Regions from separate parts of the Homo sapiens genome. Here regions 1, 2, 4 and 5 are each linked to region 3. The links come from fine-mapping of genetic effects on gene expression. A gene starts in region 3. Each other region holds a variant in brackets. All regions are shown on one strand. Distances are between the middles of the regions. Region 1 overlaps ULK2 (unc-51 like autophagy activating kinase 2). Region 2 overlaps ULK2 (unc-51 like autophagy activating kinase 2). Region 3 holds the start of ULK2 (unc-51 like autophagy activating kinase 2). Region 4 overlaps ULK2 (unc-51 like autophagy activating kinase 2). Region 5 overlaps ULK2 (unc-51 like autophagy activating kinase 2).

Region 1 (5,000 bases), 48 kb after region 3:
GCGAGACTCTATCTCAAAAAAAAAAATAAAATAAAAAATAAAATAAGTCACTGGCATAAACATATCCTTTTTATGTCTTATTCATTAGAGTTCTTTAAAAAGTAAGGTTGGGCCAGGCTCAGTGGCTCACGCCTGTAATCCAGCACCTTGGGAGACCAAGGTGGGTGGATCGCTTGAGATTAGGAGTTTGAGACCTGCCTGGCCAACATGGTGAAAACCTGTCTCTACTAAAAATACAAAAATTAGCCAGGTGTGGTGGCGTGCGCCTGTAATCCCAGCTACTTGGGAGGCTGAGGTGGGAGAATCACTTGAACCCAGCAGGTGGAGATTGCAGTGAGCTGAGATTGTGCCACTGCAGAGCAAGACTTTGTGACTTTCTCTCAAAGAAAAAAAAAAAAAAGATAAGGTCAGCTGGGTGTGCTTGCTCACGCCTGTAATCCCAGCACTTTGGAAGGCCAAGGTGGGAGGATTGCTTGAGCCCAGGAGTTTGAGACCAACTTGGGCAACATGGTGAAATCCCGTCTCTACAAAAAAATTAAAAATTAGCTGGGTGCTTGAGCCCCTGACTTCGAGGTTACAGTGAGCTATGATTGCTCCACTGCACTTCAGCCTGGATACAGAGAGACCCTGTCTCAAAAACCAACCAACCAATAAACATCATTTTAGGAAGCCTTTAAAAAAAATGGAAATAAAGTGGAAAGCAGGGGAAAAAAGGAAAGTACGAACATTTGTATATAGTTTCCAGTTAGTGGGATTAGAAAATGGTATGGTTTGATAGACCTTACATTTAACATCATCTGCCAAAAATAAGATGATTTCATACATGCTTCCCCTTCTTTCTAGGACTGGTGTAGACTCATACAGAGGCTTGAGATACACAGGCATGTGATATAACGTTGTCGTTTTTACATTCTCATGTAAATATCTAGCTGCTATTTTATTCCAGAAAAATTCTAGGCCCCCCCCAAAACAAAAAATTACAAACAATAAAAAAACTCCAAATCACTCTTTTAATTATGATACTGACTAGAGATTAAATGCTATTTAGATGGTAAATCTTGAATATTTATTTATTTAGTGATTTTTTTGAGACAGAGTCTCACTCTGTCACCCAGGCTGGAGTGCAGTGGCGCGATCTCGGCTCACTGCAACCTCTGCCTCCCGCGTTCAAGTGATTCTCCTGCCTCAGCCTCCCGAGTAGCTGGGATTACAGGCATGTGCCACCACTTCTGGGTAATTTTTGTATTTTTAGTAGAGATGGGGTTTCGCCATGTTGGCCAGGCTGGTCTCGAACTCCTGATCTCAGGTTATCCACCTGCCTTAGCCTCCCAAAGTGCTAGGATTATAGGTGTGAGCCTCCTCGCCTGGCCTATTTATTCGTTTTATAACATTTATCGAATACCTACTTTGTGTGATGTTCTGGTTTATACTAATGAATGAGATGACCAGGTCCCTGACATTAAGGAGGTTTTAATTTAATTGTATGGAGAAGAGGTAGGTAACTCAGTCATTGCCAGAAGCATATGTATATGTATCTTCATTGCCTATGGGAGTGTGATTGGGGAACATCAAAATTAGATTAAGGATTTAGGAAGGCTGCTAAAAAGAGGGGATTGTTTGAGCTGAGTTTTGAAGAAAGATTGCAAGAATTAGTGAAAGAATGATATTGTAAGCAGAAGAATTTCCGTACATGAAGTCATAGAAGCGTGAGCCACTGAAGGAACTCTAGCTCTCCATGGCCATTTACATTTAAATTTGTTAAAATTAAGTGAATTTTAAAATTCATTTTCTTATTCACACCAGCCACATTTCAAGTGCTTAGTAGCCTTAGCTAGCTGGTAGCTCCCATAGTGGATAGCTCAAATATAGGCCTTTTCCATCATTGCAGAAAGAACAAGGCTGCACTCAGTAGTTCAGTTTGGTGGATGCAGAGAGCATTGGTGATGGGTGAAGGGAAAAGAAAGCTAGAGAGGTAGACAGAGGCCTGACAGTATTTGGAGGTCAAGCAAAGGAATTTCAGCTGCATTCTTAAAAGTTGTAGTGAGCTAGGCCGGACACGGTGGCTCACGCCTGTAATCCCAGCACTTTGGGAGGCCTAGGCGGGTGGATCACAAGGTCAAGAGACTGAGACCATCCTGGCCAACATGGTGAAACCCTATTTCTACTAAAAATACAAAAATTAGCTGGGCGTGGTGGGGCGCGCCTGTAGTTCCAGCTACTCGGGAGGCTGCAGCAGGAGAATCGCTTGAACCCGGGAGGCGGAGGTTGCAGTGAGCCGAGATCACGCCACTGCACTCCAGCCTGGTGATAGAGCGAGACTCCATCTCAAAAAAAAAAAAAATAAATAAAGTTGCAGTGAGCCATTGGAATGATTTTAGAGTGAGTGATATGATCCACTGTGTTTTTTAGCTAGATTCTCCCAAAAGCAGGGTGGAGGACTAGGTTGGAGTGAGAGAGGAAATACAGAGGTCTCCACTAGAGGAGAGAGGACACCTTGAGACCCTTGCACCTTTTATTTTATCATCATTGTTGTTGTCGTCATTACTGTTTTGAGAACGAAGCCTGAACTAAGGCGGCAGTAAGGAAGGAGAAGAGCCAGGTAAGAGAAAGGCAAAGAGCGCACAGATCTTGAAGATTGCTTGAACTTGGAACCTGAGGAAGAGTGAGACCTTGCTGGTGACAATGGCCGGCTGGCAAGGTCACTCTGAGGGAACTTGGGGAGCAGTGCTTTGGAATATAAAGGTGATGAGTTAACGTACAGGCATGAATGTGTTGTATAGGCAAGTGAACAAAGGGATCTAGAGCTCATCAGAGAGAATTTTGGCTGAAGATCAAAAAGTAGGAACCATCATTCTGTGAGTGGTAGTTAAAGGTAGGAGGGACAGTGAGCATGGTCACTCGGGTAAGTACAACAAGTGAAG[C/G]GTGAAGAGCCCAGGGTGGCTCATGGGGAACTCTCTACTCTTCTCCTTCTCCTCCTTTTTGAGGGGCAAATGAGAAGTATGTACTCACAAAAGAGACTCAGAAGGAGTCCCCAAGAAGTAGGAAAAACAAGAGATTGCAGGGTCACTGAATGAAGGGGCAGAGTGTTGAGAAGAATGGTCCACAGTACAGATGGAGCAAAAAGTTCAAGTACCTTAAGGAGTACGGGAAATACTTGCTGGACTTGACAATAGAAATTATTGATAATCTTAGTAAAGGCATTTTTATTCAAGGGTTGAAGACAGAGTGGGTTATGTTGAATTAAGGGATATATAGGATGTGACACATTTGAGTCAGTGAAGATGATAATTTCAAGATATGTTGTTTATAGGCTCATGCCTGTAATCCCAGCACTTTGGGAGGCTGAGGCGGGTGGATCATGAGGTCAGGAGTTCAAGGCCAGCCTGGCCAAGATGGTGAAACCCCGTCTCTACTAAAACTACAAAAATTAGCCAGGCATGGTGGCAGATGCCTGCAATCCCAGCTACTCGAGAGGCTGAGGCAGGAGAATCGCTTGAACCTGGGTGGCAGAGGTTGCAGTGAGCCAAGATCATGCCACTGTACTCCAGCCTGGGTGACACAGTGAGACTCCATCTCAAAAAAAAAAAAAAAAAAAAAGAAAAAAGAAAAGAAATGAAGAAGAGATGATAATTTGAGAGGGTTTTAGGGATTTGAGATGTGAGAAAGTTAAACATGGTTATCTACAGAGGGAAAAAATGCCATAACAAAAGGAGAGGATGAAAATGTCAGGAGCCGAGGGGAGTTGTTCTAGGCCACTGGGGACATAGAGGAGCATGGAATGCAGAGCACAGGTGGAGAGAGGAGCGCCCATGGAAGAGAAGCATCTCTTCCACTGTTACGAGAAAGAATGACCAGGGTGATTGTAGATGCAGGTAATTTTGTAAATAGCAGGAGAAGAAACTGGGAAAGTTCCTGCCTAAACCACTGGAAAGATATTGTGGAGTTAGAATCACATCTCAGCTTGACTACTTTTTAATTGTGTGATCTAGGGCAAATTACCTGTCTGAACTTTATTTATATGTGAATGGGCTAAAGTTAGATAACATGGAAAGCTCTTTTTTTTTTTTTTTTTGAGACGGAGTCTCACTCTGTCGCCCAGGCTGGAGTGCAGTGGCGCAGTCTTGGCTCACTGCAAGCTCCGCCTACCGGGTTTACACCATTCTCCTGCCTCAACCCCCCGAGTAGCTGGGACTACAGGCGCCCGCCGTCATGCCCGGCTAATTTTTTGTATTTTTTAGTAGAGACGGGGTTTCACCATGTTAGCCAGGATGGTCTCGATCTCCTGACCTCGTGATCTGCCCGCCTCGGCCTCCCAAAGTGCTGGAATTACAGGCCCAAAGTGCTGGAATTACAGGTGTGAGCCGTGATTCACACCCTGCCGGAAAGCTCTTTTAACAGTGCCTAGCGCATGGTTGAGGCTCAGTAGTGCTAGTTCTTCCATCTTCCCTTCCCTTCATTACCTTGAGATACAAAGTCTCTTCAAAAAGTGATAAGGAGAGATTGTGTCAAGTGCATGTCACACACATGAAAATAAGTGGTATCAGTGACCGATACCATGGCACAGTGACATTCAAAGGAGCAGCAGCAGTGAACCAGGTATTTAAGGCTTGGGTTTAAAGAGCATAATATAGTATTTTTCCGTTCCTTAAATAAAGGCAAAGATGAAACAGGTTAATAGGGGCTTGACACAATAAGCTATGAAGTTCATTGTTGTAGAAAACCATTGTATAATCAAGATATTCAATGAGTTGTCAACTAGGGTCCTTGCACTAGATAAACGACAAAAGATACGTAGCTAGTTAGCTCTTAAGTATTTGTTTAAATATATTTACATGCTTTTCTTCCCTTCCTATCCTATCTCCTACTAACAAATCAACTACTACCCCTGATAAAACAAAAACAAGAGGAACACAAGGATACCTGTAAGGTTTTCCAAATCTATAAATACATTTCTGGTCTTAAGTGCAGGCACCCTTCCTGATTTGTCTATTTTTTTACAT
Region 2 (5,000 bases), 39 kb after region 3:
GTTTACAGGTATATTTTTCCCTCTTACTACTGCTTTTGCTACATCCCATAAGTTTTAGTATGTTGTGTTTTCATTTTCATTTGTCTCAAGATATTTTCTAATTTGCCTTTATGACTTCTTTGACTCATGGTTGCTTAAGAGTTGGTATCCTTTGGCTCTGTGTCCCACCCAGATCTCATCTTGAATGAGATGAGACGGGGAAGGGCTTGGTGGGAGGTGAGTGAATGGGGAGGGGCTTGGTGGGAGGTGAGTGAATCATGGGGGCGGATTTCCTCTATGCTGTTCTCGTGATAGTGAGTTCTCACAAGATCTGATGGTTTGAAAGTGTGGTACATCCCCTTCCTGCTCTGCAATGGTAAGACATGCTTGCTTCCCCTTCACCTTCTGCCATGATTGTAAGTTTTTTGAAACCTCCCCAGCCATGGAGAACTAAATTAAACCTCTTTTCTTCATAAAATGGCCAGTCTCAGGTAGTTTTTTTTTTTTTTTTAGCGACGGAGTCTTGCTCTGTCACCCAGGCTGGAGTGCAGTGGAGCAATCGTGGCTCACTGTAACCTCCACTTCCGGGGTTCAAGCGATTCTCCTGTCTCAGGCTCCTGAGTAGCGGGAATTACAGCTGCGTGCCACCACGCATGGCTAATTTTTGTATTTTTAGTAGAGATGGGGTTTCACCATGTTGGCCAGCTGGTCTTGAACTTCTGTTCTCAAGCGATCAGGCTGCCTGGGGCTCCCAAAGTGCTGGGATTATAGGCATGAGCCACTGCGCCCAGCCTCAAGTAGTTCTTTATAGTGTGCGAAAACAGAGTAACACAAGAGTGTTTTGTTTAATTTCCACATATTGTGGATTTTCCCGTTATTTCCTCTGTTACTGATTTCTAGTTTTTTTTTTTTTTTTTTTTAAACAATCTCAAAGGACAGGCATGAACCACTGCGCCCGGCCCTTGATTTCCACTTTTATTCCATTGTGATTGGAAAAGATAATCAGTCACCGTGATTACAATCTTTTAAAATTTATGGGCCAGGCATGGTGGCTCATATCTGTAACCTTAGTGCTTTGAGAGGCTGAGGAAGGAAGACTGCATGAGGCCAGGAGTTTGAGATTAGCCAGGGCAACATAGTGAGAACCTGTCTCTACAAAAAATATTAAAAATTAGCTGGGTGTAGTGGTATGCACCTTTAGTTCCAGCTTCTTGGGAGTCTGAGGTAAGAGGGATTACTTCAGCCCAGGAGTTTGATGCTGCAATGAGCTAATTGCACCACTGCATTCCAGCCTGAAAAAACAGAGCGCAACATTGTCTCTGATTAAAAAAAAAAATTATTAAGACTTGTTTTGTGGCCTAAGGTGTGGTCTGTTTTGGAGAATGTCCCATGTGTACTTGAGAAAAATATATGCTCTGCTCTCAGAGACTAGAGTACTCTGCGTGTGTCTGTTAGGTCCAGTTAGTTTATAGCACTGTTCAGTGCCTCCCTTTCCTTATTGATGCTGTATCTGGTTATCCTATCCATTACTGAAGGTGGGATATTGAAGTCTCCAACTATTATTGTACAAATCTCTTTCTCACTTCAGTTGTCAATGTTTGCTTCATGTATTTTGGGGCTCTGATTGTTTATAAATCTTAAATTTTCTTGGTTAATTGACCCTTCTATCATTATTTAATACCTTTTTTTTTTTTTTTTTTGAAATGGAGTCTCGCTCTGTCACCCAGGCTGGAGTGCAGTGGCGCGATCTCGGTTTACTGCAACAACCTCCGCCTCCTAGGTTCAAGCGATTCTCCTGCCTCAGCCTCCCAAGTAGCTGGGACTACAGGTGCCTGCCACCATGCCCAGCTAATTTTTATATTTTTAGTAGAGACAGGATTTCACCATGTTGGTCAGGCTGGTCTCAAACTCCTGACCTTGTGATCCACCCTCCTCAGCCTCCTAAAGTGCTGGGATTACAGGCGTGAGCTACCGTGCCCAGCCCCCCCCCTTTTTTTTTTCCTTGACAGGGTCTCATCCTGTCACCTAGTCTGGAGTGCGGTGGTGCAGTCTTGGCTCACTGAAACCTCTGCCTCCTGGGCTCAAGTGATCCTCTCACCTCTGCCCCTCAAGTAGCTGGGACTACAGGTGCAAAGCTACCACACCTGGCTAATTTTTGTATTTTTTGTGGAGACAGGGTTTCACCATTTTTTCCAGGCTGATCTAGAACTCTTGAACTCAAACGATCCACCCACCTTGGGCCTCCCAAGTGCTAGGATTACAGGCTTAAGCCAGTGTACTTGGCCTTATTTAACGTACTTTTTGTCTTTTATAACAGTTTTCAATTCAAATTCTATTTTGTCTGATAGTCAACTTTGCCCTTCTCTTTTGCTTAGTATTTGCCTGGGAATAGCTTTTTCCATTATTTTGCTTTCAAAT[AT/T]TTGTGTCTTTAGATTTAAAGCGAGTCTCTTTTTCTTTTTTCTTTTCTTTTTGAGATGGAGTCTTACACTTTCACCCAGGCTGGAGTGCAGTGGCACAATCTCAGCTCACTGCAACCTCTGTGTCCCGAGTTCAGGCGATCCTCTCACTTCAGCTGGGACCACAGATGTGCAGCACCATGCCTAGCTAATTTTTTTGTATTTTTGGTTTCACCATGTTGCCCAGGCTGGTCTTGAATTCCTGAGCTTAAGAGATCTGCCTGGGATTAGAGGCGTGAGCCACCTCACATGGCCTAAAGGGAGTCTCTGTTCTGTTTACAGATTATAGTTGGATTATTTCCTTTTAATCTACTTTGCCAGTCTCTGCCTAAGGAGATCTATTTACATTTAAAGTAATTACTGATGAGGAAAGATTTTCACCATTTTACTATTTTTATGTCTTACAGCTTTTTTGTCCCACATTTCTCCCATTACTGCTCTCTTTAGTGTTGTTTTTTATAGTAATGTGTTTTGATTCCTTTCTCATTTCCTTCTGTGTATATTTTTCCTTGTGGTTACCTGCGGATTACATATAACATCTAAAGTTACTGAATTCATATTAACTTTAGTTGCACACAAAAACTCTACTTCTGTATTGCTTTATACCCCCTTTATGTTGATATCACAAATTATATCTTTATGATAATTTTAATGCATTTGTCTTTTAAACTCTGTAGAAAGTGAAAAAGTGAAGTTACAAACCAAAATTACAGTACTATTGGATTTTAAATTGCCAGTGCATTTATCTTTTCCGGAGATCTTCATGTCTTCATGTGGCTTTTTACTGTCTAGCTCTTTTCATTTCAACCTGAAGTACTCTCTTTAGCATTTCTTATAGGGGAGGTCTTGTGGTAATGAATTCCCTCAGCTTTTGTTTTTCTGGGGATATCTTAATTTCTTCCTGAGTTTTGAAGGACAGTTTTGTGGAATGTAGAATTCTCAGTTAACTTTTTTTTCTTTCAGCACTTTAGATAATATCCCACTGCCTTCTGGCCTCAAGATTTTTGATGGGAAATTGGCTGATATTCTTATTAAGGATCCCTGTATATTACAAGTTGCTTCTCTCTTGCTTCCAAGATTCTCTCTGTCTTTTGAAAGTTTGATTCTGTAACTCTGTGTGGGTCTCATCAGTTTATCTTAAAGTTTTTGGAAGTTGCTTTTTTTTTTTTTTTGAGACAGAGTTTCGCCCTTGGTGCCTAGGCTGGAGCGCAATGGCAGGTTCTCGGCTCACCGCAACCTCCACCTTCCGGGTTCAAGCGATTCCCCTGCCTCAGCCTCCTGAGTAGCTGGGATTACAGGCATGTGCCACCATGCCTGTTAATTTTGTATTTTTAGTAGAGACGGGGTTTCTCCATGTTGGTCAGGCTGGTCTCAAACTCCTGACCTCAGGTGATCTACCTACCTCTGCCTCCCAAAGTGCTGGGATTATAGGCGTGAGCCACCACGCCCGGTCCAACCTAATTCTTATCTTAGGTAAAAACAGCTACTTGAAAATGTCAGACCAGAGAAATCATTAAGACATGTTTAATGAAAATACTTAGCAAATTAACCCTGATCTTGTAGTTTTTAGGGAAAAAAGTGTTTGACTTTTCCTGTAGTAATAGTTGTAATACTAACAGAGATTTGTGGAAATATACTCCAGGATTTTGGTTTGCTAATGTATAGTATAATAGGGAAACCCACATTGGTATTTAAATAAGTTGGACTAGAATTTGAATTCTAGTCCCTCACCTTACTAACTCTTTGACATTGGACAAGAAACATGGCCTTTGTGTGCTTTTAATTTTATTACCCATCATAGGAGGACATACTTCCTCAGATAAGGTTTGTGAAGCACCCAGTTCATTGTCTTAGTGAATGTTGAATACTCAGTAGAGGATAGCTGTAATTGTTTCCATGTCGGGGAAAAGATGAAATGGTCTGAATACCTATTTTCTTAATGTTTTGTAAAGTTGGACTAAAATTAAGTTCATGTAGTTGGAAATATTTATACCTATTAGGGAGAAGTTAAGCTGAGAGTTGCTCTGAACCATGAGAATTATGGTCAATAGTGAAACAACTATTATGGAGAATGGTTTTAAAATTATTGAATGTATTGTTTTTGTAGTTTCTTTTTTTTTTTTTTTGAGACGGAGTCTCGCTCTGTCACCCAGGCTGGAGTGCAGTGGCGCGATCTCGGCTCACTGCAAGCTCCGCCTCCCGGGTTCACGCCATTCTCCTGCCTCAGCCTCCCGAGTAGCTGGGACTACAGGCGCCGGCCGCCATGCCCAGCTAATTTTTTGTATCTTTAGTAGAGACAGGGTTTCACCGTGTTAGCCAGGATGGTCTCAATCTCCTGACCTTAGGTGATCTGCCTGCCTCGGCCTCCCAAAGTGCTGGGCTTACGGGCGTGAGCCACCACACCCGGCCAGTTTTTTCTCTTTTTAATGTGAAACCAGCATCAGGAATACTTGTAGGGGCGAAGGATAGTTTGTTGTATAAATCAGCTGTATCAATTTCCTCTTAGGACAATTAACAGCTGTAGTTCACATGGGTGCTTAACAAGGGCCTGGTGATCACAGTTCT
Region 3 (5,000 bases):
GCTTCTGGGGACTCAGAACACCCACAGGCTTGTGTTGGGGGCAGCCATAGTTACATGATCCTGCCTTCCTCAGTCCCATTCCTGGCTTCCGATGATTGTTCAGGGCCCAGCACCCAGCTGAAGTTAGGTTGATCAGAATCCCCTCCTTAAGAATTTGGTGGCTGGGCCCAGTGGCTCACGCCTGTAATCTTAGCACTTTGGGAGGCCGAGGCAGGCGGGTTACCTAAGGTCAGGGGTTCAAGATCAGCCTGGCCAACATGGTGAAACCCCGCCTCTACTAAAAAAGCAAAAAAAATTTTAGCTAGGTGCAGTGGCACGCAACTGTAATCCCAGCTACTTGGGAGGCTGAGGCAGGAGAATCGCTTGAACCTGGAAGGCGGAGGTTGCGGTGAGCCGAGATCGTAACACTGTACTCCACCCTGGGCGACAGAGCAAGACTTCGTCTCAAAAAAAAAAAAAATTTGGTTTGGAGACTGGGGCTGCCATTGCCACCATGTAGGAGATCTCAGGCAAGAGAACAAAGCAGGGGCACAGACGGAAGGCAGTTCTCTTTGAGATCCTGGTTCTGCGGGTAGTTTGCTTTTGAAGCCCAACTTTGAACTCTGAGAAGCACACCTGTATCTTTATCTACATTCTTTATTTTTCACTTTATCACATTTGACGTTTGCTATTTGCTACCAACATAGTCCTAACTAAACATTTTTTAGCAAAGCACCCCCTGCCTCCTGCCCCCACTTCTTTTCTGACTCTTGAGGTCAGAAATCCTGCACATTTTGCTTTTCAAATGGATATGTCCATGGGGCCCATGTTTGGCCTGTGAATACAGGACACGCATGTCCAAACGAAGGGCCTATTGGAGGTTTCTGAAAAATACCTTCATGTGGCCGGGCGCAGTGGCTCACGCCTGTAATCCCAGCACTTTGGTAGGCCGAGGTGGGCGGATCACGAGGTCAGGAGATGGAGACTGTCCTGGCTAACACGGTGAAACCCCGTCTCTACTAAAAACATACAAAAAATTAACCGGGCGTGGTGGCGGGTGCCTGTAGTCCCAGTTACTCCGGAGGCTGAGGCAGGAGAATGGCGTGAACCCGGGAGGCAGAGCTTGCAGTGAGCTGAGATCGTGCCACTGCACTCCAGTCTGGGCGACAGAGCAAGACTCCGTCTCAAAACAAACAAACAAACAAACAAAAAACCTTCATGTGGCTAGGTGAGGTGGCTCACACCTATAATCCCAGCACTTTGGGAGGCCGAAGTGGGCGGATCGCTTGAAGTTGGGAGTTTTGAGACCAGCCTAGCCAACATGGTGAAACCCCACCTCTACTAAAAAAAAAAAAATTAGCCGGGCATGGTGGTGCAGGTCTGCAATCCCAGATACTTGGGAGGCTGAGGCAGGAGAATCACTTGAACCCAGGAGGCGGAGGCTGCAGTGGGCCGAGATCATGCCATTGCACTCCAGCCTGGGCAACAGAGCAAGACTCTGTCTCAAAACAAAAAACAGGCCGGGCGTGGTGGCTCACGCCTGTAATCCCAGCACTTTGAGAGGCCGAGACAGGCTGATCCCTTGAAGTTGGGAGTTTGAGACCAGCCTGGCCAACATGGTGAAACCCCATCTCTACTAAGATACAAAAATTAGCTGGGCGTGGTGGTGCGTGCCTGTAATTCTAGCTGCTTGGGAGGCTCAGGCAGCAGAATCACTTGCACTTGGGAGGCAGAGGTTGCAGTGAACCAAGATTGTGCTACCGCACTCCAGCCTGGGTGACAGAGTAAGATTCTGTCTCAAAAAAAAAAAAAAAAAAAAAAGTAAACAAAAAAATAGACTGTAGAGAATCTTTCAGTGAGGTAAGGAATCATCTCCATCCATTTTTGGGTGTATGTGCAAACTTGCTTAAGTTGCTGTCAACTTTTGAAGGCTCCAGATTTTCAGTGTCTAACACAACCACCTGGGCCAGATGTAAGTAAGGACAGGATAACGTAAGCGTGCACAGTAGCAGAAGCAGAAACTCAAGGCCCTACGTTTTGAGCGTGTGAGGAAGGAGCGTTCTCTCAGAATCCTGGAGCTGACTCTGTCATGGTTCAGAGATCAGCTTGCAGGGACAGGCAGTGGCAGTCGAGGTGGTGACAGACCCCAAAAGCACATACCCTATACAACCGAACACACACTCAAGTGTGGAGCCTGCGTATTCCATGGTAGTTTCAAGCATATTGTTTATTAAATGGTTTCATAAGACACTTCTTTGCGGGAAACCTGACAATCTGTTCCTTGTCACTTGGACAGCTTTAACAATCAGGTAGAAAAGAAAGCTCCCTTCGGCCATGTGAAGTAAGCCCGAGGTCAAACTAGCCTGACACTAGGAGCTCCCAGGAGAACCTTGAAAACGTGTGCGATTCTGAGTCGGTGTGCAGAAACGATTCTCTGCGAAGAGGGCCCTGAGCTGTCACCAGCTTCTCGCAGTCAAGGGACCCCCAAAAGGTGCAGAATCCCGCCTGTCACCGTCCCTCTAGGGATCCTAAGCGAGTAAACCCCGAGAGGCGTCCGAAGGCTGGCAGTTTGGCAGCGTGAACTCTGGTTTTCCAGAGCGCGGGCAAAGCCTGGAGTAGCAGTTGCTCCTTTGCTCTGGCAGGAATCTGGGGGTCTACCCTGCGCAGATAATCCCGTCCTGCCTGCAGCTGGGGTTCAAGACCCGCTTCTCTGAAGTCCGCCTCCCAGCGGCCTGGAGCCCGGGGCGTGGTCGGCTCGAATCTGCTCCCCAGGCCCAGAACGGAGCCCGCAGCCCGTAACCCGCTGTGGCCGCAGCGGGTCGCGCCCTTCGTCCCCGCCTCAGGAGCGGCCGAGGATCTGCCCAGCTGCGGGCGCCAAGCCCTGGCCGCACTCCTTTCCCCGGCGGAGGGAGCCGGCTGGCGCTGCGGCCTTCAAGGCGCGCGGACGTCGCGGAGGGCAGCCAGTCGCGCGGGAGCGGGTAGCGCGCGCGAGGGCGTTGGGCGCCGCCGCGAGGCGGGGAAGCGCGGGGCCGCGGCGGTGCGGGTTCTAGGGCGGCGGCCGTCGCCGTCGCAGCAGCGCCCCGAGCGGGGAGGGCCGAGGAGGCCCGACGAGCTGGGGATGGAGAGTACCGGGCCCCTCACTGCCTCAGAGCGCGTGTGCGGCTCTGGGCGCGCACAGTGACGGTGACGGCACCCCTGGCCCGGCAGCGCCGAGGCCGCTTCGCCAGACAGCCAGCGGCCGGCGGCAGGCCGGGCCATGAGCGGCAGGGGCCGGGCCGGGCCTCGCTGACCCTGGCTCCGCGCGGCAGCTTCCCCAGTTTCCGCTCCGGTCTCTCGGCATGAGAGTCCGCCCGGGCCCGGGGCTGCGGCTGCCCCAGACCCGCCGCACGCTGGCGCGCTCCGGGCCCGCGGAGCCGCGGTGCTGATACCTGCGCCGCACTGCGCCGCCCGCCCGTCCGCTGTGTGCCCCGGGGGCGCGGCCATGGAGGTGGTGGGTGACTTCGAGTACAGCAAGAGGGATCTCGTGGGACACGGGGCCTTCGCCGTGGTCTTCCGGGGGCGGCACCGCCAGGTGAGCGCCGGCCGGGGCGAGGCCGGGCCCCGGGCGGCAGGCACGGGGCTAGGTGGTTCTGAAACTTGGCGCAGCCGCGAGCCGAGACCCCCGACTCGGCTAGCCGCCCGGGTATGCTATTGTGCGCGCAGCCCGTCTCGCCGTTTGTTTTGGTCCTGTGAGGGTTGTTGTGAGGCCCAAGCCTCTGGCAGCGCTCCGCCTACCGACCGGCTGCTGCTGATCCTCCTGTGTGCCCGGGGCCCACCCCGCGGTCCGCCCGCAGGAGCGTTTGCACCCAGGTTACCCTGGACCCAAAATAGACGGTACTGCACCGTGCAGACTCGAGGGTTGGGCGTGAATGGACCTTTGGTTTTTTTCCCCGTGCCCAGGGCTGGTCACTTTTGAGGTTGATAATTACAGACCCAGCGGAAAATGGGCGGATGTCCCATTAGCCTCAGGCTTTCGCAGCCTGGGAGGTGTCACCTTTCCCAGCACTGGTCCCCTGCACCCCGAAGAGCCCCCGTACCGTTTTCCCCCCCGGAGTCAGATAGACGAGCTCCGGGTGAGAAAGGTGGTTGGACAATTCATTTTCAATCACCTTGAACATGAAATCACCTTTAAGCCTTAAAAAAATTGTTTTAAGCCTTTGCTGTTTCGCAAGTACAGTTACACGAGGTTTTAGAATCTAAAGAATTTGGAAAGGCATATCGGGAGTGGAAATAATCTTAAAGGGTGTGGCAGTTCTGATTGTTGCCCAAGGGGCGTGTTAAAAGTGGGCTGACTTTGTTGCTTATCGGATGAAGTAATGCTACTTTTCTTATTTATTTATTTATTTATTTTTGAGACAGAGTCTCGCTTTGTCGCCGAGGCTGGAGTGCCGTGGCGAGATCTCCGCTCACTGCAACCGCTGCCTCCCGGGCTCAAGCGATTCTCCTGCCTCAGCCTCCTGAGTAGCTGGGATTACAGGTGCCCGCCACCACGCCCGCCTAATTTTTTTTTTTTTGTATTTTTAGTAGAGATGGGGTTTCACCACGTTGGCCAGTGTGGTCTTGAACTCCTGACCTCAGGTGATCCGATCTGCCCGCCTCAGCCTCCCAAAGTGCTGGGATTACAGGTGTGAGCCACGGCTCCCGGCCTACTTTTCATTTATTAGGAAAATAATTTAGAACTCAAGCACGGTGTAATCCTTCCAAGCTAACAAATAACTTTTCAATTAACTGTATCACCTTCCAAGTTTATTTCTACATTTGTCCATAACTTTGAAGTGGTTGTGAACTGTTCTTTTTTCATTTAATGTTAGTTACCATGTGGACTTCATATTTGTTATTTTTAGAAGTTGTGTTGTAGGATCTTGGCATATTGCACTATAATTTATGAAATCACTTTCCAATTATTGAAAATAATTCCATTTTTCCCCAATGCCGTACATTTATTTGCCAAAAACACCTTCGCGCTTGTAAATTTTTTTCTG
Region 4 (5,000 bases), 97 kb after region 3:
CTTCTGCCTGCCAGGAGTACTCTGTGCAGCCATCCTGTAACTGCTTCAGTCCAGAGAAGGATAGCATCCATCCCTCCCTCCAGCTCGCCTCTCTGCTGAGGCTTTCTCCTCTCCACTCAGCATTTGCAACAGCTTCTCTCCTGGCACTTGTCTGGGAATATCAAGTTAAAAATTACAACACCCAATTTTGATAACTTTAGTTGAGAGAAACAACCTCTAGTGAAGACTGATAAGTAACTTATTGCCCGTAGTCCCATGTTCCTTTGTCTCCACCAAGAGGAATTACCAGCCCAGCAGTTCTGCCCTCACTAGAGTCCCGTCCAGGAGCTTGAGAGGAGAGGATTTTTAGGGCTGGATTGCCTCAGTCTGCACAGTAATAAGTTGAGTTAGACACAGTGGACATGAGGACCTGGACTCAGATATCTGAAGAATCCTTATTATTTTTTTGTTGGCTTGTTTTGAGACAGAGTCACCCTGTTGCCCAGGCTGGAGTGCATTGGCGCAATCTTGGCTCACTGCAACCTCTGCCTCCCAGGTTCAAGTGATTCTTCTTCCTCAGCCTCCCAGGTAGCTAGGATTACAGACATGCGCCACCACGCTCAGCTATTTTTCGTATTTTTAGTGGAGATGGGGTTTCACCATGTTGGTCAGGCTGGTCTTGAACACCAGCCTCAGCCTCCCCAAGTGCTGGGATTACAGGCATGAGCCACCGTGCCCGGCCAAAATCCTTAATGTTTTTGTTTTTTGGTTTTTTTTTTTGAGACAGTCTTGCTCTGTCACCCAGGCTGGAGTGCAGTGGCACAATCTTGGCTCACTGCAAGCTCCGCCTCCGGGGTTCATGCCATTCTCCCGCCTCAGCCTCCCGAGTAGCTGGGACTACAGGCGCCTGCCACCACGCCCGGCTGATTTTTTGTATTTTTTAGTAGAGGCAGGGTTTCACCGTGTTAGGATGGTCTCGATCTCCTGACCTCGTGATCCGCCCGCCTCGGCCTCCCAAAGTGCTGGGATTACAGGCGTGAGCCACCGCGCCCGGGCTATCCTTAATGTTGATATTAGTGGTTAGCACATGTTTTGGAGGAGGACTTCACACTTTTTAAACTATGCTCCCTCGTATTTTCTATAAGCAGTCTTAAATTCTTTCTGGAATAAAGCAAGATTGATCAGTATTTCTCAAGGAGGATTATTTGGCAGGCAGTAGCTACTGCTCAGAGAACTTGGTATTGTTACATGCATCCTGGAAGTATCTGTGCCTATTTCTAGACGGCCTCAGACCACTTTTTTCTGAGTCCTGGACCCTTGAATCTGCAGCCAAGCAAGCTCTTGGGTCCCTCCCAAGTCTCATGTTTAGTAAAGCCCTGTGAGAATAATTTTATTGGTGGAGGAGTCAAGATGATACTTCCCTCACCTGCATCAGAGGAAACCACATCAGAAACAATCCACCTAGAAAAACACTGCATACGGGAAAGCTGACAACTTGCCCTGAGAAATCACAGCTTTGGTGCAAGAGGTGAAGCCGAACTGGTAAAAGATCAAAGTGAATTCAGAGATCAAACTGTACTAGGGAAAGGAGCAGAGGCTGAGATCTTGCTGCCAGCGTGACCTCTCACAGAGTGGCCCAGCAGAGGCTGTGCAGAGATGGCCAGAGCCAGGACCCAGCCCTGTGGAGCCCCTGGGCACATGTGGTCCCGAGTGAAGCCGTGCCTGTTGCTCTGAACAGGTGGGATCAATCTGTAGGTTTTTCCACTTTTCACAGAGTGTGGCTCTCTTTAGGTCTGCACTCCCTCTCTGCGCAGGGCGGACCTCCCTGGGCTCTGCAGCATGATCTCCTGTCCCAAGACAGTCGTGCTCTTGGACAGTTAGCTTCTGTCATTAGGAAGTGCCCACATGAGCTCTTGTTTATTGGAAACCGTGTTCTATGCCTCCTTTGGGGTTTCTGCAACTCA[A/G]TTTGGCAGGTAGCTTAGTGGTCCACTTGGTCTCAAATTCCAGCTCCACCATGTGCAGTTGTGTGTTCTTTGGCAAGTTCCTCCCCTCCTCCGAATCTGTCAGTGGGGGAAGAGTGCATGTCTCACAGAGTTGAGGTGAGAAATAAGTTAATGAATATGAAATTCTTTGCCCAGCCCCTGGCACGTGGAAGGGCTCAGCAATCCTGTATCCGTTGTAGTGGTCATCACTCTGTGGCTCTTCACTGCTTTTGTTTTGTTTTGGGAGGGGGTGGAGAACAATTTGTTCTGTGTTTGTGTGGGGCAAGGCCTGTCTTCAGGGCTCTCTCCAACCACGTACGCTCTGGCTGGAGCTTCTGAAAGGACACAGTTCTTGCATAGAAGTTGCTTTCTCCAGCTTGCCCACCAGGCAGTCTGGCTTCAGACATCTATGTTGCCCTTTTAAGTCAATTTGGCTGTTTAAGTGGAATGTTTGTGTCAGTCTGATAATTGTTAATTCATTTGATCCTCATACCAACCCTTACTTGCCTCCTTTTACAGATGGAAAAATCAAACTTGGACAGTAATTTCCACAAGGAAAAGCCCCACAGCTGGAAAGCGGTGGGAGCAGGAGGCCACACTGGGTACAGGAGTACCCATCTCCCCACAGGAGCCCCACACTGTCTCACCCTTAGGAAGCCCAAATGCTCACTCCTTGAGTTTCTAATGCATTCTTTCTGATGTACAGGAAGAGGGGAAGGAAGGAAGAGCTTTTCCATTTGGTGCTCCAATGTCTCCTGCTGGACCCATCTGCCTAGTGGAAGGCAGCAAAATTTCAAGAAACAGGTGAGGTTGAGCAGCTTGGTGCAACCCCATGGGGCCTGGAGTTGGAGCTCAACAGCAATGGATTTCAGAGACCACCCTGAAACTCCCAGTAAAAAAGACTTGGGAGACATGTTAATAAACTCAAGCATTTGATCGACCCACTTTTAAGTGTTCCTGTTTGCTTGTTTTTGCATATGGCAGTGAGATTGAGCAGCAGGGAATTGTTTCAGTGGGAAGTGGGAGGACTCTCAAGTCTAGATGTGCCCAGAGGACCCTCCCCTGCCATAGGCCCTGCCGCCTGCTGGGGCCAGTTCCTTCACTGATGGCAGTAGACATAGCCCCTTTCTCCAGGAAAGCCCTTTAGAGGCTGCCCTGCTGAGGCTGCGTGCACTCCCATTCTCACCTCGGCCTGCCCAGCCTAGCTTTCAGTGCCAGTCCCCTTTGGCTTACGCAGGACGAGGATGGCATGTAGAACCCCATCTCCAGCCACCAAGTCCACCCAGCTGCTGCCTTCTCCTACCTTCTGTCCTATTGTTCCCATCTCAGCCCACATGGGGGCCCTTGTTTACACTGGCACCCCCACCCGCTACTACAGGGAGAGGCTGGGGAAGAAGATAGTGGCTGAGCCTGGCCAGATCTCTGGAAGGCCTCTCCCAAGTCTCACGGGCAATAAAGTGACTTCTTGTCTAGCACATGGATTCCCTTCAGGAAGCAATGATGGGAAACCTACAGCCAGGGCTTCTGAGGGGCCCTGGGTGGCTAGAGGTTATTGCTCCACTTCCTCTGGAAAATTTCAGTGAAGATGAAGATGAGTTGATAAACTTTGGAGCTAAACCAAAGATGACTGATTTAGGTAGGAATTCTCATAAAGAGCAGGAAGAGTGCAGGCTGCTGATTTGATATGGAATGCCTTGTGGTTGGAAAATGGATTTAGTTTCTAGTAGAAACCCAGAATATTTTGAGCACGAACAGTTTTGTTTTCATAAATCCCTTTTACATTCTGAGAAAGAAAACAGCACCCCCATACACCTGTCTCTTTGGGAGAACTTTCCTACAATATGATGAAAGTATGCACAAAAGGTTTGAATACATTTTAAGTGTTTATAAGATGATAAAGATATATCTGTGGGTGTCCAATGGAATAAGTTTTCCTTCCCTATCTGTAGTGTCTGATGGACTTGGAAAATGGGAATTATTTTAGAGGGTGGGTGAGACTTGTTTGTTTGTTTGAGGCGGAGTCTTGTTCAGTCACCCAGGCTGGAGTGCAGTGGTGCGATCTCAGTTCACTGCGACGTCCGCCTCCCAGGTTCAAGTGATTCTCCTGCCTCAGCCTCCCAAGTAGCTGGGATTACAGGTGCCCACCACTAGGCCTGGCTAATTTTTTGTGTGTTTTTAGTAGGGATGGGGTTTCAGCATGTTGGCCAGGCTGGTCTCAAACTTCTGGCCTTCAATGAACCACCGCCTCAGCCTCCCAAAGTGCTAGGATTACAGGAGACATTTAATTTTATATTCCATAATGCTGATATTTTTCACCATGAGCTTATATAATTAAAAAAAAATTTTTTTTTTTTTTTTGAGACAGAGTGTCACTCTGTTACCCAGGCTGCAGGCTGGAGTGCAGTGGCACGATCGCAGCTCACGCAACCTCTGCTTCATGGGTTCCAGCTATTCTCCCACCTAAGCCTCCCAACTAACTGGGATTACAGGTGTGTGCCACCACGGCTGGCTAACTTTGTGTGTGTGTGTGTGTGTGTGTGTATTTTTTTGAGATGGAGTCTCACTCTGTCGCCTTGGCTAGAGTGCAATGGCGTGATCTCGTCTCACTGCAACCTCTGCCTCCTGGGTTCAAGTGATTCTCCTGCCTCAGCCTCCTGAATAGCTGGAATTACAAGCACGTGCCACCATGCCCAGCTAATTTTTGTATTTTTAGTAGAGACGGTTTCACCATGTTGGCCAGGCTGGTCTCGAACTCCTGACCTCAGGTGATCCGCCCACAGCCTCCCAAAGTGCTGGGATTATAGGCATGAGCCACTGTGCCTGGCCTAATTATGTAATTTTTAAAAACAAGGTTTTTTTAAGTATAGGAAAACTAAAAGACTAGGAAAGATTTGCAGTAAATTCAACAGATGAAGGGAGGTTAAAGTAGGGGAAAATGTTAGGAGAAAATCCAGAAATTCTCTTTGCTCCTGACAGCCCCACTTCACCAATGGTGAGCAGCAGAGGGGCCTGAAAGGGTAGTGGGTTTGAGAGGCCCTG
Region 5 (5,000 bases), 74 kb after region 3:
GCTGGTCTTTAACTCCTGGCCTCAAGTGATCTGCCTGCCTCAGTCTCCCAAAATGCTAGAATTACAGGTATGAGCCACTGCTCCTGGACAATAATAGCTATAATATAATGAGCACTTTCTGTGTACCAGATGCAGCGTAAGTACTTTATTTGCAGAATGCTTTTTGTGTATGATCCCATTTAATCCTGAAAAAAGGAAATTGAGGCTTAGAGAGTTTAAATTAATTGTGCAAGGTCACACAAGCTGTAAATAGAGCTGCCAGTGGGTTTGACTGACTCCAGAGTCTATACTCCTGCCAGGTCTCACCCGCAGACCCTGACCAAGTAATGGATGAAAAAATGCACTCCAACACAGACATCCAGTGAAGGAGCGGGCTAGGGGACCGGGCCGTTCACAGAAAGAGTTGTAGCAGCCACAGCCCTGACATGCTGGTGCTGCAGGCATTTATTTAGTACAGATTTAATGACAAAGGCCTTGAGTCAACATACTTGTAAGTAATTGTGCATGGATGATTAAAGGCCAGGTTCCAAGGCCTAAGTAAACTAACTTATCTAGATCAGTTTTTTTACATCCCCTTGTTATCTAACCTAAGCTTTCAGGAACCAGATAAGAGAATCTGGTTGCCTTCAGCCAAATCCTAACTTTTGTAAAACCTCCCGGCCTTCCAAGAAGGTTTGCATCTTTCTACAATTTTTCCCACCACCCGACCTATCTCCTACATGCTCCTGACTACTGGGTCACACAAACCTGCCAGTACTGAATAGTTCATGCATCGTATTAACTAGTTTACATATATATATATATATATGTCTCTTTAGACCACAGCTCCTTTCAAAATCCCTAAAACTCAAGCATCTTCCAACCTGTTAGCCTTGGTTACTCGTCATGGGCCTGCTGAAGAACAGTCGAAAGATGGGAATGAGCCACGGGAATGTGCCCATTGCCTCTTAGTGCAAGGAAGTGAGAGGCAGCGGGCCGAGCAGCAGAGCAAGGCAGTGTTTGGCAGGTAAAAGACTGTTTCCATTCTAGCATTAAACATGAAAACTGTAATAGTAAAACATAGATTTCTGTTATAAAAGCAGCAAGACTACATTAGTGTAGCGGGTGATTTATGCCATATGGTTATTGATATGTACCACGTACATTTAGAATCTCTGAAAACCACAGATGCTTCCTGTAACTATGTAAGTACATAGTTCTTCCTGAACTTTTTGAATATTCTATTTCTGTCCTTTATTTGTATTATTGAAGTTTATCTCTACCCTGAATTGTTTGGTATCTATTTCTTGTTTCCTCATTCTCTAACTTCCTATTAACCCTTCTAGTTTTAAAAAGTATACTTTTCCTTTATTAAAAACATCACTATTCTTTTTAGATCTGTCAGTACCGGGAAGTTATCAGATCAACAAGGAAAGACTCCTATATGTCGACATCAGGGCAGCACAGACAGTTTAAATACAGAACGACCAATGGATATAGGTAAGAAAAATGTAGTTTCTTTTTAGGCAGGTAATTTGCTAGCATATGCATTTGTTTCTTACTGCTGTTGTAACAAATCATCACATGCTTGGTGGCATAAAACAACACAAATGTATTATTTCATAGTTCTGGATGCCATCCCTATCCTCTCATCTTCCTTCTCAGTAGCCCATTCAGAATAGGACCTTATTCAGTATCTTGATGAGCAGCAGCCTGTGCGTTACTAATGGAAGGAGTTCTGACGAAGATTTTTTTTTTTTTTTTTTTTTTTTTTATCAGTAGGGTAATACTGGTCGAAGTTGGCCTAAACCTACATGTACTCCTGAGCATTTACTTTACAGCAACTGGATTTTATAAAGACCCATAGGTCACTGAGACCCCTGAACCTTTCGGAGTTGCTCCAGAGACTGTATGTTCATGACCACCCATGTATATCTAGATTACTTGGCCTGTGTGTCAAAAAACAAAAACAAAATGGAGATTCTAGACTGTAATTCCGTATTCCAGACTTGCTTGCTTAAATTTTCTGGGTTTTTTTTTTGGGAGATGAAGTCTCGCTCAGTCGCCCAGGTTGGAGGGCAGTGGCGCAATCTTGGCTCACTGCAAGCTCCGCCTCCCGGGTTCACACCATTCTCCTGCCTCAGCCTCCCAAGTAGTTGGGACTATAGGCGCCCGCCACTACGCCTGGCTAATTTTTTTGTATTTTTAGTAGAGACAGGGTTTCACCATGTTAGCCAGGATGGTCTCGATCTCCTGACCTCGTGATCCACCCATCTCAGCCTCCCAAAGTGTTCTGGGGGTTTTTAGGAATCAACATGTGTAATACACTCCCAGGTGATTATTGTGGACACCCAGATTTGAGAATCACTATTGTAATCTCCTTGTTTTTTTTTTTTTTCTCTATGACTTTTTAATTTTCCCCATGAGCATCCAAAGGAGGAAATATCTGAGCCAGCAT[C/T]GTTTCTTTCTAATCCAAAGAGAATACTGTAGGATTTAATATTTCACTGTACTATCTTCTTCCCTGCATAGTTTCTAAAGAGAAGTCTGATGTAATTCTTACCCTTGTTCTCTGTAGGTGAGGTGTGTTTTTGTCCTTGGCTTCTTTCAAAATTTTCTCTGTCTTTGATTCTCCGAAGTTTGAATATGATATGCTTAGGTGCAGATTTTTTCATATTCATTCTGCTTGGTGTTTTCTGTTTCCTAGGTCCGTGGTTTTGTTCTGTCATTAATTTTGGAAGTTTTTCAGCCATTACTGCTTTGAATGTTTCTTCTGCTTCTCTCTCTCATTCTTCTGGTATTCCCGTTAAGTATATGTTCTACTCTTATAGTTGGCTCATTGTTCTTAAAAGTCTCATGCTCTACTGACTGAGCTAGCTGGGCACTGGCTCCATTGTTCTTAGTCTGTTCTTTTTTTCTTCTTCTTCTTCTTTCATTCTTATTTCTCTTTGCTTTTTAGTTCAGGAAGTTTCAGGAAGATATTCACATATCTTCAATCTCACTGATTCTTTCCTTGGCAAAGTCCAGTCTACTGATGAGTCCATCAAAGGCATTCTTTGTTTCTGTTACTGTGATTTTGATTTTTAGCATTTCCTTTTGACTCTGAGTTTCCATCTCTCTGTCTGTATTACCTATCTGTTCTTGCATGTTGTCCACTTTTTCCATTAGAGCCCTTAGTATATTAATTATCATTACTTTAAATTCCCAGTGTGGTATTAAACAATTCCAGTATCTCTGCCATATGTGAGTCTGGTTCTGATGTTTGATTTGCTCTCTCTTTTCAAACTGTACTTTTGCCTTTTAGCATGCCTTTTAATTGAGGCTGGGTATGATGTACTTTGTTTAAAAACTGAGTTAAATAGGCCTTTAGTGTGAGGTTTTTTGTTTATCTGGCCAGGAGTTAAGCTTTATTTAGTGTTTGCTGTAGCTGTAGGTATCAGAGGCTAAAATTTTCTCTGGTATCCTTGTTTTTGTCTCTCCGGTTGTCTTTGGGTTTCCCTATACACTCCTTCTTAAATTGCATCTGGACCTTGCCTAACTCTGTATTTTCTTCCAAGAGTTTTATAATTCTAATTTTAAAAGTGTAAGATGTAGCTCTTATGCTTATGTCTGTGGTCCAGTTTGACTTAATTCATATGGATGATGTGGTGAAGGGATCCAGCTTTATTCTTTTGGATGGGCTATTCAGTGGTCGCAGCACCATTGAAGACTATTCTTTCCCTGTTGTGTTGTTTTGCTAGCCTTGTCAAAACTCGGTTGACCATTGATAGGGTTAGGTTTTGTGTCCCCACCCAAATCTCATCTTGAATTGTAATTCCCATAATTTCCATGTGTCAGGGGAGAGCCAGGTGGAGGTAATTGAATCATGGGGGCAGTTTCCCCCATGATGTTCTCATGATAGTGAGTTCTCACGAGATATGATGGTTTTATAAGGGGCTCTTCCCCGCTTTGCTTGGCATTTCTCCTTCCTGCTGCCTTGTCAAGAAAGTGCCTTGCTTCCCCTTTGCCTTCCACTGTAATCGTAAGTTTCCTGAGGCCTTCCCAGCCATTCTTAACTGTGAGTCAATTAAACCTCTTTCCTTTATAAATTTCCCAGTCTCGGGCAGTTATTTATAGCAGTATGAAAATGAACTAATACAACTATAAATATGTTTATTTCTGGACTCTTAACTATTTCACTGATCTATATGTCAATTTATGCTGGTACCATACTGCCTTGATTACTGTAGCTTTGTCTTAAGTTTTGAAATCAGGAAATACGAGTTTTTCTTTTTTGTTCTTTTTCAAGACTGTTTTGGTTATTAGGGGTGCCTTGAGTTTCCATATGAATTTTTGCATCATCTTGTCAGTTTCTGTAGAGAGACTGGCTGGGTTTTTTTTTGTTTGTTTTTTTGTGTTTTTTTGAGACGGAGTCTCGCTCTGTCGCCCAGGCTAGAGTGCAGTGGCATCATCTTGGCTCACTGCAAGCTCTGAGAGACTGGCCGGGTTTTTGGTGGAGATTGCATTATTAGATCACCTTAGTGAATATTGAAATCTGTCTTAGTCCATTTTGTGCTGCTATAACAGAACATCTGAGACTGCGTAATTTATGATGAACAGAAATTTACTTTCTTACCATTCTGGAGGCTGAAAGTCCAAGTTCAAGGCACTTGATCTGGTGACAGTCTTGCTGCATCATCACATAATGGAAGGCAGAAGGGCAGAAGAGGGCTTGTCCTTTGACCTCAAGCCCTTTTATAATGGCATTAATCCATTCATGAGGGCTTTTGGGTCTTGTTTCCTCTTTTCTTAGTCTGGTCAAAGGTTTGTCAATTTTATTTATCTTTTCAATAAACTAGCTTTCATTTCCTTGATCTTTTGTATTGTTTTCTTAGTTTCAATTTCATTTATTTGTTCCCTGATTTTTATTATTTCTTTTCTTCTAGTAATTTTAGGTTTCGTTTGCTCTTGCTTTTGTAGTTCTTTAAGATGCATTGTTAGATTATTTGAAGATTTCTTCTTTTTTGATGTGTAGGCACTTTTAG

Evidence for each region. PIP is the estimated chance that this variant, and not a neighbour inherited with it, causes the effect.
Region 1: its variant is fine-mapped to the expression of ULK2 in nasal epithelium (TOPMed, PIP 0.94).
Region 2: its variant is fine-mapped to the expression of ULK2 in skeletal muscle (GTEx, PIP 0.96). The same link has a PIP of 0.9 or more in sun-exposed skin.
Region 4: its variant is fine-mapped to the expression of ULK2 in whole blood (TOPMed, PIP above 0.99). The same link has a PIP of 0.9 or more in fibroblasts.
Region 5: its variant is fine-mapped to the expression of ULK2 in whole blood (INTERVAL, PIP above 0.99).

Annotation. Positions count from the first base shown.
Region 1 is chr17:19,817,395-19,822,394 of GRCh38, reverse strand. The region is part of intron 12 of ULK2 (unc-51 like autophagy activating kinase 2); the gene reads left to right. Among named protein-coding and RNA genes, the nearest start is that of TRG-CCC3-1, 41 kb to the left of the region's middle. The variant C/G (reference allele first, on the strand shown) is at 2,922.
Region 2 is chr17:19,826,518-19,831,517 of GRCh38, reverse strand. The region is part of intron 10 of ULK2 (unc-51 like autophagy activating kinase 2); the gene reads left to right. Among named protein-coding and RNA genes, the nearest start is that of TRG-CCC3-1, 32 kb to the left of the region's middle. The variant AT/T (reference allele first, on the strand shown) is at 2,398.
Region 3 is chr17:19,865,878-19,870,877 of GRCh38, reverse strand. It overlaps ULK2 (unc-51 like autophagy activating kinase 2), which reads left to right and starts at 2,942. Exons shown (of 27, transcript NM_014683.4): 1 at 2,942-3,550. The coding sequence starts at 3,461. RefSeq lists silencers at 2,889-3,478, 3,559-3,738 and an enhancer at 3,317-3,825.
Region 4 is chr17:19,768,735-19,773,734 of GRCh38, reverse strand. ULK2 (unc-51 like autophagy activating kinase 2) reads left to right here. Exons shown (of 27, transcript NM_014683.4): 27 at 1-2,905. Among named protein-coding and RNA genes, the nearest start is that of ALDH3A1, 23 kb to the right of the region's middle. The variant A/G (reference allele first, on the strand shown) is at 1,944.
Region 5 is chr17:19,792,101-19,797,100 of GRCh38, reverse strand. ULK2 (unc-51 like autophagy activating kinase 2) reads left to right here. Exons shown (of 27, transcript NM_014683.4): 19 at 819-1,006; 20 at 1,376-1,479. Among named protein-coding and RNA genes, the nearest start is that of ALDH3A1, 46 kb to the right of the region's middle. The variant C/T (reference allele first, on the strand shown) is at 2,438.